Homo sapiens: one gene and its partner. The protein of the gene in region 2 purifies or fractionates together with the protein of the main gene of each other region. This does not show direct contact. Each region holds a gene or a part of one and is shown on either strand. Other genes may lie near its edges.

The links. The genes of interacting proteins can lie anywhere in the genome.
Region 1: the proteins of KBTBD8 (region 2) and RRP15 purify together in Homo sapiens (affinity purification with western blotting; one study listed by BioGRID). This does not show direct contact.

The regions. Positions count from the first base shown.
Region 1 is NC_000001.11:218,283,974-218,288,651, forward strand, and holds the start of RRP15 (RRP15-like protein), read left to right. Parts: upstream 1-1,319; 5' UTR 1,320-1,343; coding exon 1,344-1,482; intron 1,483-4,678.
Region 2 is NC_000003.12:67,000,872-67,005,490, forward strand, and holds part of KBTBD8 (kelch repeat and BTB domain-containing protein 8), read left to right. Parts: intron 1-2,323; coding exon 2,324-3,438; intron 3,439-4,619. UniProt on the Homo sapiens protein: Substrate-specific adapter of a BCR (BTB-CUL3-RBX1) E3 ubiquitin ligase complex that acts as a regulator of neural crest specification.

The DNA of each region.
Region 1 (4,678 bases), on a different chromosome or scaffold from region 2:
CTGGGACTACAGGCACTCGTCACTGCGTTTGGCTAATTTGTGTATTTTTAGTAGAGATGGGGTTTCACCATGTTGGCCAGGCTGTTCTCAAACTCCTGGACTCAAGCGATCCACTTATCTCAGCCTCCCAAAGTGCTGGGATTACAGGTGTGAGCCACCGCACCCGGCTAGACCCTCTCTCTCTTAAAAGACAAAAAAATTAAAAACCAAGTTTAAAAATGTTGTATTGAGTTTTTAGGATGTGAATATATATTTATTTCCTACATAAACATCTACTGGAATATGTCAAAATGAGGATTCTTGTTTTTGTTTTTGACTTATGGGTATCACAATCTATGAACCTCCTTAAGAGGGGAAAGGGAAAACGCTAAGTTTGGGGAAAGCCTTTAGAACAAGTCTAGCCAGTAAAGGTTTGCTGCATTATCCATCTGAGTCATTAACTTTGTCAATAGTTATATTCTGTCACTCATTCATTGATTCATTCATCCCTTCCAAAAATATTTTTGGAAAATTCACTTCAGGCCAACTTCTGTTGCTAACCTTGAGGGGACATGGTAAATGAAATACGTTCCCCTCCTGCGAGAAGCCAACATTTTAGGGGGGAAAATGAAGGCCGACTGTGGTAGGTGCTTCGATGGAACTAGGAGCTGGTGACAGAGGCTAACTTCAGAGAAAAGCTAGCCCCGGGTGGGAGGCAGGATCCTCGCGCGGATAGCAAGGTATTCGCACCCTCGGTCTGCACTGCGCAGTCGGGCGCCAGAAACCCTCCAGGCCCCAGCCGGGTCCGAGGGAGAAGGGTGCGGTTGGATTCAACACCCGCCCCAGGGAAAGAAGGTGAGTCTATTCGGTTTGCAAGAAAGGTCTCGCGTGTTATCTTGGGCGGGGGGATGATACGATCGTATTCTAATTATCGGCCCCCAGTGGATCTGTCCCGCGTCCTAGCTGCTGCGGCGTTCAGTGGGCACGTAAGAGACACCTGAGGAGGACACTAAACCAACATTAAGGCAGCAGACAAGGGAAGCCGCCGAGGCTAGGAAATCAAAGTGGACCGCGCTGGGCTGGGGACGGGCTGGGGACGCACTGGGGCGGAGGACCAGGGCACAGGCGAGCTAGCGGAGGAGTCGGCTGAGGCCATTCAGCCGCTGATTTTCGTCCTGGAACGGACTTCGCGTAAACACACCGAGCCATTCAGAGCTCTCTCCAAGTCACATTCTGAGGCTCCGGCCCCGGAACTCTGGGCTAGACGACCCCGCCCCGGAACCTTGTGTTACCGGCACTAAATGCAGAAGTTCCTCTGGTTGCCACCGGACGCAACTGTCAGGTGACGCTTCCGGCGCAGAAAAATGGCAGCCGCCGCTCCGGACTCACGTGTGAGTGAGGAAGAAAACCTGAAAAAGACCCCAAAGAAGAAGATGAAAATGGTAACTGGAGCCGTAGCGTCGGTGCTGGAAGACGAGGCCACAGACACTTCTGATAGTGAAGGTAATGTGGTAGGGCTGAGCTTTGGTGTCTGGGAGGAAAGGCGGGGCTGAGTTCGTGTCAAGCAGCGCTTGCGACTTCATTTGCTGCTAGCCACCTGGGTTTTATCTTGGCACCACTTCAGAGGGGCGACTTTGGCTTAGTGAGGAGGCTTGGGGAAGTCGTGTTCAGAGAAGTAACGCTGTCAACTGTAATTTTGAGTTTCCACATTCTTTTACTAGGTATTTTCAGGGTCACCATTATTAATTATAATAAAATGGGTGAAACACCTGCAGCTACCGAGAAACTTACAGTAGCAAAGGGTGAAAGGAAGAGGGTACTTGAAAACAGGAGAAGAATGGGTCTCATAGGGTGTAAGAAGCAAAAGGTTAAAAGAGGTAAGAGGAAGAAGGGGGTGTACTTGACTTTTTGTGCGGTAGATGTGTGCGTGTTTTAGAGACTAAATAATAGTGAATGAAAGAAGAGTTTGGTGGTTAAGGTCGATTAAAAACTGGTAGTGTTTGATAACTATGTCTCTCAGAGACGCTTGATAATAAAAGGAAGGAAGGATGTGTTTTTGAGGCTTTCAACCATGCTGTGTCTGTTGCTCCTCTTTACCATCATTCTTGGCACCAGCTTATTAGGTTACAAGGAATTGCAGGTAATCCCTGACTTCCTACTGCCCAGTTATTGCTCCTTTGTACCAGCTGATACCCAAAAAACAGACAGAGCTATTCTTTTATAACGTATTTCTAATTATGCCCGCTGTCTGTTTGAGATGATCCAGTGGCTTCTCATCTCAGTATATAATATCCAAAATCCTTAGGCTGTATGATTTGGGCCAGGTTGTCTGTCATAGGCCAATATGCCCCTCACAAACCACTAACTGTAATCATGCCATACCGGTATGCTTGTGTTTAACACCTTAAACATGCTCCCACACCATGGTTTCTTCATTTGTTGGCTCCGCTGCCTAGAATAGTTTTCAAATGCTTGGCATGTCTCTCCCTCACCAGCCTCTGATCCAGTGCCTTACCAGAGAGACTTGTCCCTGACTACCCTATGTAACGTACCACCACTACTCTTCTTCCTGCCTTCTTTTCTTCACTTTTTGACTTATTGCCCTGCTTTATTTTTTCTCAACCCTGCCCAAACCATTTGATGTATGTATTTGCTGCTTTCCCAATTGGAATATAAGTTCCATAAAAATAGAGCCTACTGTATCCCCAGTTCCTATTGCCTTGTGGGTCCTTCACAGATATTTAAGTAAATGAATGAATTAACCTGGACTTCCAGGACCAAGAAGAAAGTGTCATATGCTACTGCAATTCCTAGGTAATTAGAGTCTTCATCTCCTGCCACATTGTTAAGGAAAACAAACTATTTGTTGGGCCAAAATTAGAACTTCTGGTTCTGATATTTTTTAAATTCATTAGACTAGTTCAAACACTATTGTTCAAGAAGGGAAGAGTACTATATTTGCTATATTTGGAGCAAAATGTCAGTACTGCTTACAAATTGGATTTTTCTTTTTCTTTTTGAGACAGGGTCTTGCTTTGCCACCCAGGCTAGAGTGCAGTGGCACAAACAGGGCTCACTGCAACCTTGACCTCCTCCCCCACCGCCCCCCAAAGCGATCCTCTTGCTTCAGCTTCCCCAGGTAGCTAGGACTACAGGCGCATACCACTGTACCTGGCTAATTTTTTTTTTCTTTTTTTTTTTTTTTTTTGGTAGAGATGGGATTTTGCCATGTTGCCCAGGCATGTCTCGAACTCCTAGGTTCAAGTGATCCACCCGTCTCGGCCTCCCAAAGTGCTGAGATTACAGGTGTGAGCCAGCACACCTGGCCAAATTGGATTTTTCTATTCAAATACTGGATAATTCCAAGTTGGAACTGTTCTGACTTTTCAGCGTATTATTATAAATGCTGATTAGGTTTTAAGGTTCTCTTGCTGTTATAGATCAGCCACATTACGGGTTAAAAAGGTTTTTGGCCAATATGGAAACCTAATTTATCTAATTCAATTCAATGAACACTTGTTGTGTTCCCTTAGGTTCCAGTCACCCTCTAGGTGTTGAGGATACAAAGGATGAATATATTTCTGCATTAAAATTTCAGTTTTAGGAAAGATATTAAACACAGGACTGTAATATAGTGTATTAGTATAATTAAAAGGTAGTTTTCAAGATCATGGTTCAATTTTGGAAAGGTAAGGATGGAGACAGAGAAATTCATATCCTCTGGAACCCAGCCTAGGCGTTGCTTACTTATATCTTACGTGTATTATTGATAATATACTATGTTATTATATTTTAACATATCTCTCTCCTTATAGAGATAAGTTCCCCAAATGTCAAAAGTATGTCTTGTTTATTTTCACAGGGTCTTCTTTGCATACTTTAGTATTCAGTAAATTGTTTTGTTGAATAAATGTATAAGGTGGCATTCTATCTAGGCTTTAGAAGGATGAATAGTTTTCCTGACCTGGGAGTATAGAGGGCAGTTTTCTCAGACATAAAAGCATATACAGTGGCATGCGGTCTCTTAAAATTCATGGCCTATTTCAGACAAAGTAATCTTCTGTTATGGCTCCAGCTGTTCAGAGAAGTGACTAGAAGTAAAACTGGAAACAATGGTTAAAAGTAGATTATAAAGGGCCTTGTGTATTTGTAGGCAGCAGGGAGCTATTGAGAACTTTTAAGCAAGATGGTGACAGTTGTTTATAAATATTACTGCCAGATGTACGGTGACTGCCAAAGAGTGCCAGGACAGTTTGTAGGCAATTGCAAAATTCTATGTTAGGATCTGCACTAGGACACAGCAGTGAAGACAGAGAAGGGCCCCACTTGAAATATTTTTCAAAAAGAAAGTATTCAATTTTGCAAACAGGCAACTTTCATGTGAGCTTATAGCACCATAGGTTTTGGGCATACTACACTGTTAGAGGAATTGGATAATAACAATAGTTATACTTTTGGAACTTTCCTATGTGCCTGGTTCTGTTCTGAGTTCCTTCTATATATCAGCTCAGAGAATTCTGACAACTCTATGAGATAGATGCTGCTATTATCCTCCTGTTACATTTAAAAAACTGAGGCACAGAGGCTTATAACTTGCCCACTTCTGTACATAAGCAGATAAGCAAGTTGATAAATGATACAACAATTATTGAAGTTTGATTGTAGAGCTTATGCTCTTGACCACTACCTTAATATGTTT
Region 2 (4,619 bases):
AATATGATATATGTATACATATTAAGTATACTTATTAAGTATAATACTTAGTAAGTATACTTATTAGTAACTTTACATAAGTATGACATTTTCACCTTGCAGTTTCATTTTTTATTTTTGAAGACCTGGAAAAAAATTTTACTTTAAAAGAAGTATGCTATGATAGATTTCTAATTTTCTTGATTCCTTAAAATCTTAAATTCTTTAATTTTGTTAAGTCAATTTTTAAAAGGAGTAAAAAATACTTGAGAAATTTTCTGGGGATACGATATGTGCATTGAAATAAAGATATTTGGCTAGAAACCTCAAGGATTAGAATTTGATCTCTTGCTAGAGGTTTTTGTACTGAAGTTTCTTGGTACCAGCGCTGCTTCCTGTGTGGGATGTAGAAAATCGTACTTAATGTTTCTACGTCTTGCATCACTAGTGGAAGAATTAGAACGGCTGGAAATCTGGAATGGCTGTTTCATGATACCAGTAACTCATCAGAATTGAAATTTGTATGATTATTAGAAATTTTTTGCTGCTCTGGATTTTGTGTGAGGAAGTGCCCTGGCTTCATTTATGTTGAGTTTACATGAAGAACTTACTAGAACAGAGGAAAACTCATGAAGTGTGAGACCACTCCTGTGTGTAAGATGAGCCTATTCAAGTCAGCAGTAGTTCCCATGATAAAGGGATATGTGGTAATGTCTTCCTTTGGGAGTTAATGTCTCCCTAATGCAGGGCTTTATTTTTCTTTTTAATTGGTAGCTGTATCGGTGAGTCTTTCAGCACCTGAATTGAAAACCAGCACATACGTAGGAACATCTAGTTTTTAGTCATCAAAAAAGCCAGTGTGATACTAAATTAAAATGTACATTGTAGAAGTAAAAACAGGACTCGAAGATGATTAACCTGGGCAGCAAGTTGAGTCCTTGTACCTCCAGTGTTTCTCATACTGCATTTTAAAATTAATTCCATGAATTTGAGAGATATTTTTTAAGTGACTGGAAATCTTTGCAATTCATTTTTCATAAGATCACAAAAATTAAATAGGATGAGTCTGGATCATCTAGAATGAAACTTTAAAGGAGCGAAAAGAAAGGCAAATGATGTTTGCAAGTGACTAATACTTAAAGAGCCAGGCTGCTTAATGTTTCGGTCAAGAAAATCCCATAAATGCAACAATATTTTAATAATAGAAAAAACCAACTTGGTCTCGAAGGTAAAAGTTTGGGGTTTTAAAAACCATTATCTTCAAAGAATCAGTTAACTATTAAACTCTGTTTAAAACAGGCATTATGTATTGACTCTACCATAATCTTTATTTATGTCTAGATTTAGGTAGGTAAAATATGGTATCTTTGAGAAAATGAAGTATTTCCTTTTAAGCAAATGTTCTCAAAATTTCCAAGGGTAAGTGAAGTGATTATTATATTACTTATAATGGTTAAGGCAGCATTCAAAAGATGACAGTTTTAAAAAGGAGTAGGTGGAGAATATGTACTTTTAAAGAACTTCTTGCTTTTCTAAGATGAACATTTTAAAGATATATTTTGGATACAAGTTGCCTTGTAATTTTCACCAGGACATGAAAAGTTTTTATTAGGTTGTTTCTTTGTATGCTAATGTATCATGTTGATACCTTTATAGGTATTCTTTTTTTTTTTTTTTTTTTTTTGAGATGGAGTCTCACTCTGTCTTCCAGGCTGGCACTCAGCTCACTGCAACCTCCGCCTTCCGGGTTCAAGCGATTCTCCTGCCTCAGCCTCCTGAGTAGCTGGGATTACAGGGATGTGCCACCACGCCCAGCTAATTTTTTATTTTAGTAGAGATGGGGTTTCACCGTCTTGGCCAGGCAGATTTTGAACTCCTGACCTTATGTGATCCACCCACTTTGGCCTCCTAAAGTGCTGGAATTACAGGCATGAGCCACCACACCGGGCCAGTATTCTTAAGCTTTCTGACTGGCATGGCCCAATTTAAGATCTGATGTCCCTAAGGCAACTTGACCAGAACTCTGGATAGGGGCTTCTAGGAAAATAAAGTGACCTGGAATATGTGTGTCACCTTTTGATTTGCATTTACTTAGGTGTACTCTCCTTTTTTCATAGTTGGCACACAGCGAGCTAGCCCTGAGAATATGGGTTTTGAGGTTAGCCAGACTAAATCCTTCTGATACATTATCAATTTTTACTCCTATTCAGAATATCAGGGACTATTTTAGGAAATATTCTGTTTCAAAAGGTTATCTTTGTGGTAACTTTGTACTTTTAAAATCTTGCCACAATAATTTTGATTTATAGCACACGTGTAATATTAACCACTCTTTCCTTCTTAGATCCATGTTCACTAGCGGCCTTACAGAAAGTACTCAAAAAGAAGTTCGAATAGTTGGTGTTGAAGCTGAATCGATGGATTTAGTGTTGAACTATGCCTACACTTCCAGAGTTATTCTTACAGAGGCCAATGTTCAAGCCTTGTTCACTGCAGCTAGCATCTTCCAGATTCCTTCCATCCAAGACCAATGTGCTAAGTATATGATCAGTCATTTGGACCCACAGAATTCTATTGGGGTCTTTATCTTTGCTGATCATTATGGTCATCAGGAACTCGGAGATCGATCAAAAGAATACATTCGTAAAAAGTTTCTGTGTGTCACCAAAGAACAAGAGTTTCTCCAGTTGACAAAAGACCAACTGATAAGTATACTAGACAGTGACGATTTAAATGTAGACCGAGAAGAGCATGTTTATGAAAGCATTATAAGGTGGTTTGAGCATGAACAGAATGAAAGAGAAGTGCACCTTCCAGAAATTTTTGCTAAATGCATACGTTTTCCTCTGATGGAAGATACCTTTATAGAGAAAATTCCACCTCAGTTTGCACAGGCTATAGCCAAAAGCTGTGTAGAAAAGGGACCATCCAACACCAATGGCTGTACACAGAGGCTTGGAATGACTGCTTCTGAAATGATCATATGTTTTGATGCTGCCCACAAACACTCAGGAAAGAAGCAAACAGTGCCTTGTCTAGATATAGTCACAGGAAGGGTGTTTAAACTATGCAAACCACCAAATGACCTGAGAGAAGTTGGGATTCTTGTATCACCAGATAATGACATTTACATTGCAGGAGGGTACAGGCCAAGCAGCAGTGAGGTCTCCATCGACCATAAGGCAGAAAATGATTTCTGGATGTATGATCATTCCACCAATAGATGGCTATCCAAACCATCCTTGCTTCGAGCCAGAATAGGCTGCAAACTTGTCTATTGCTGTGGTAAAATGTATGCAATCGGAGGTCGTGTTTATGAAGGTGATGGGAGAAACTCACTAAAATCTGTTGAGTGCTACGACAGTAGAGAGAATTGTTGGACGACTGTTTGCGCGATGCCAGTTGCAATGGAATTTCATAATGCTGTGGAGTACAAAGAGAAGATCTATGTTTTACAGGGTAGGTGCCTAAGTGATTTAGTTTTTCATGGAAGGGTAACACATCAAGTGGTGGTTTACTTAATTATACTGAAACAGTTGTGTTCCCGTTAATTGAGGAATACCTCCAGCTTCCTTATCAAACTATTGGAACAGTCTGTTCTGTAAAGAGCTATAAAGAAAATAAACTCTTGAATTAAAAAAAGGCAGGTATTGTTAAATTACTAAAATAATCCTATAATTTTTAATGATTTTGTGTCTTGATATCATGTAGAATAACTATTTTTGAAAACATTCTTTAATAAATAATAGTTCGGCATTTTGGGATAACTATTTCAGAGTAGTTTGTAGGACTTGAAATAAATAGCAAGGTTGTTACATGGCTGTTTTTGCTCTTGAGTAAAATTGAGATGTTGTAGCAACTGGTATTCTGTGGAATTTACTGGATTAGTTTAAAAGAGAAAAGAACAAAGCATTAATTAAGTTATACTATTTAGTTACCAAAGAGTTTTATATAAGCCTTATTATTGCAAAAATTATGAAATTTAATTACAAAGAGTTTGGAAGTATGGTCTTCAAGTTTCACCTTCACTGCTGTTTATGTTGCCTTTCATAATACATTTTCAATTTTTTTCACCGGAAAACTTTGAGATGTCCCTTTTTTTTGGTTTGCCATTTTAAGTGGGACTATCTGATATATGTAGTGTTTGTTTTGTTTTGTTTTCTGTTTGTTTTTTTAACTGTTAAGGACTACTACTTTGGCAAAAATACAGTAGAGGTAGAGTGACTGAGTCAGAGTAAATAAGACATTTGATTCAAGGCTCTGATTTGTGATAACTATTTTCCTTTTATTTGGTTTCTTACACATTTTAGTTGCTTGAATGTTTAATGCAGTGTAGATAATAGCAACATCCTTATTCCTCGTATGTGTCTCTTAATTGATGTTTTTCTCACACTACTACTTAAGGAAAAGGAGCAGCTTCTATGAAGATATACAGTCATGTGCCATGTAATGTTTTGGTCAATGATGGATCACATACACAATGGTGGTCCTATAAGATTATGATAGCATATTTTTACTGTACTTGTTCCATGTTTAGATATGTTTAGATACAAAAATGCTTCCCATTGTGTTACAGTTGCCTAGAGTACTCAGTACAGTCACATGCTGTACAGTTTTGTAGCCTAGGTGTGTAGTAAGCT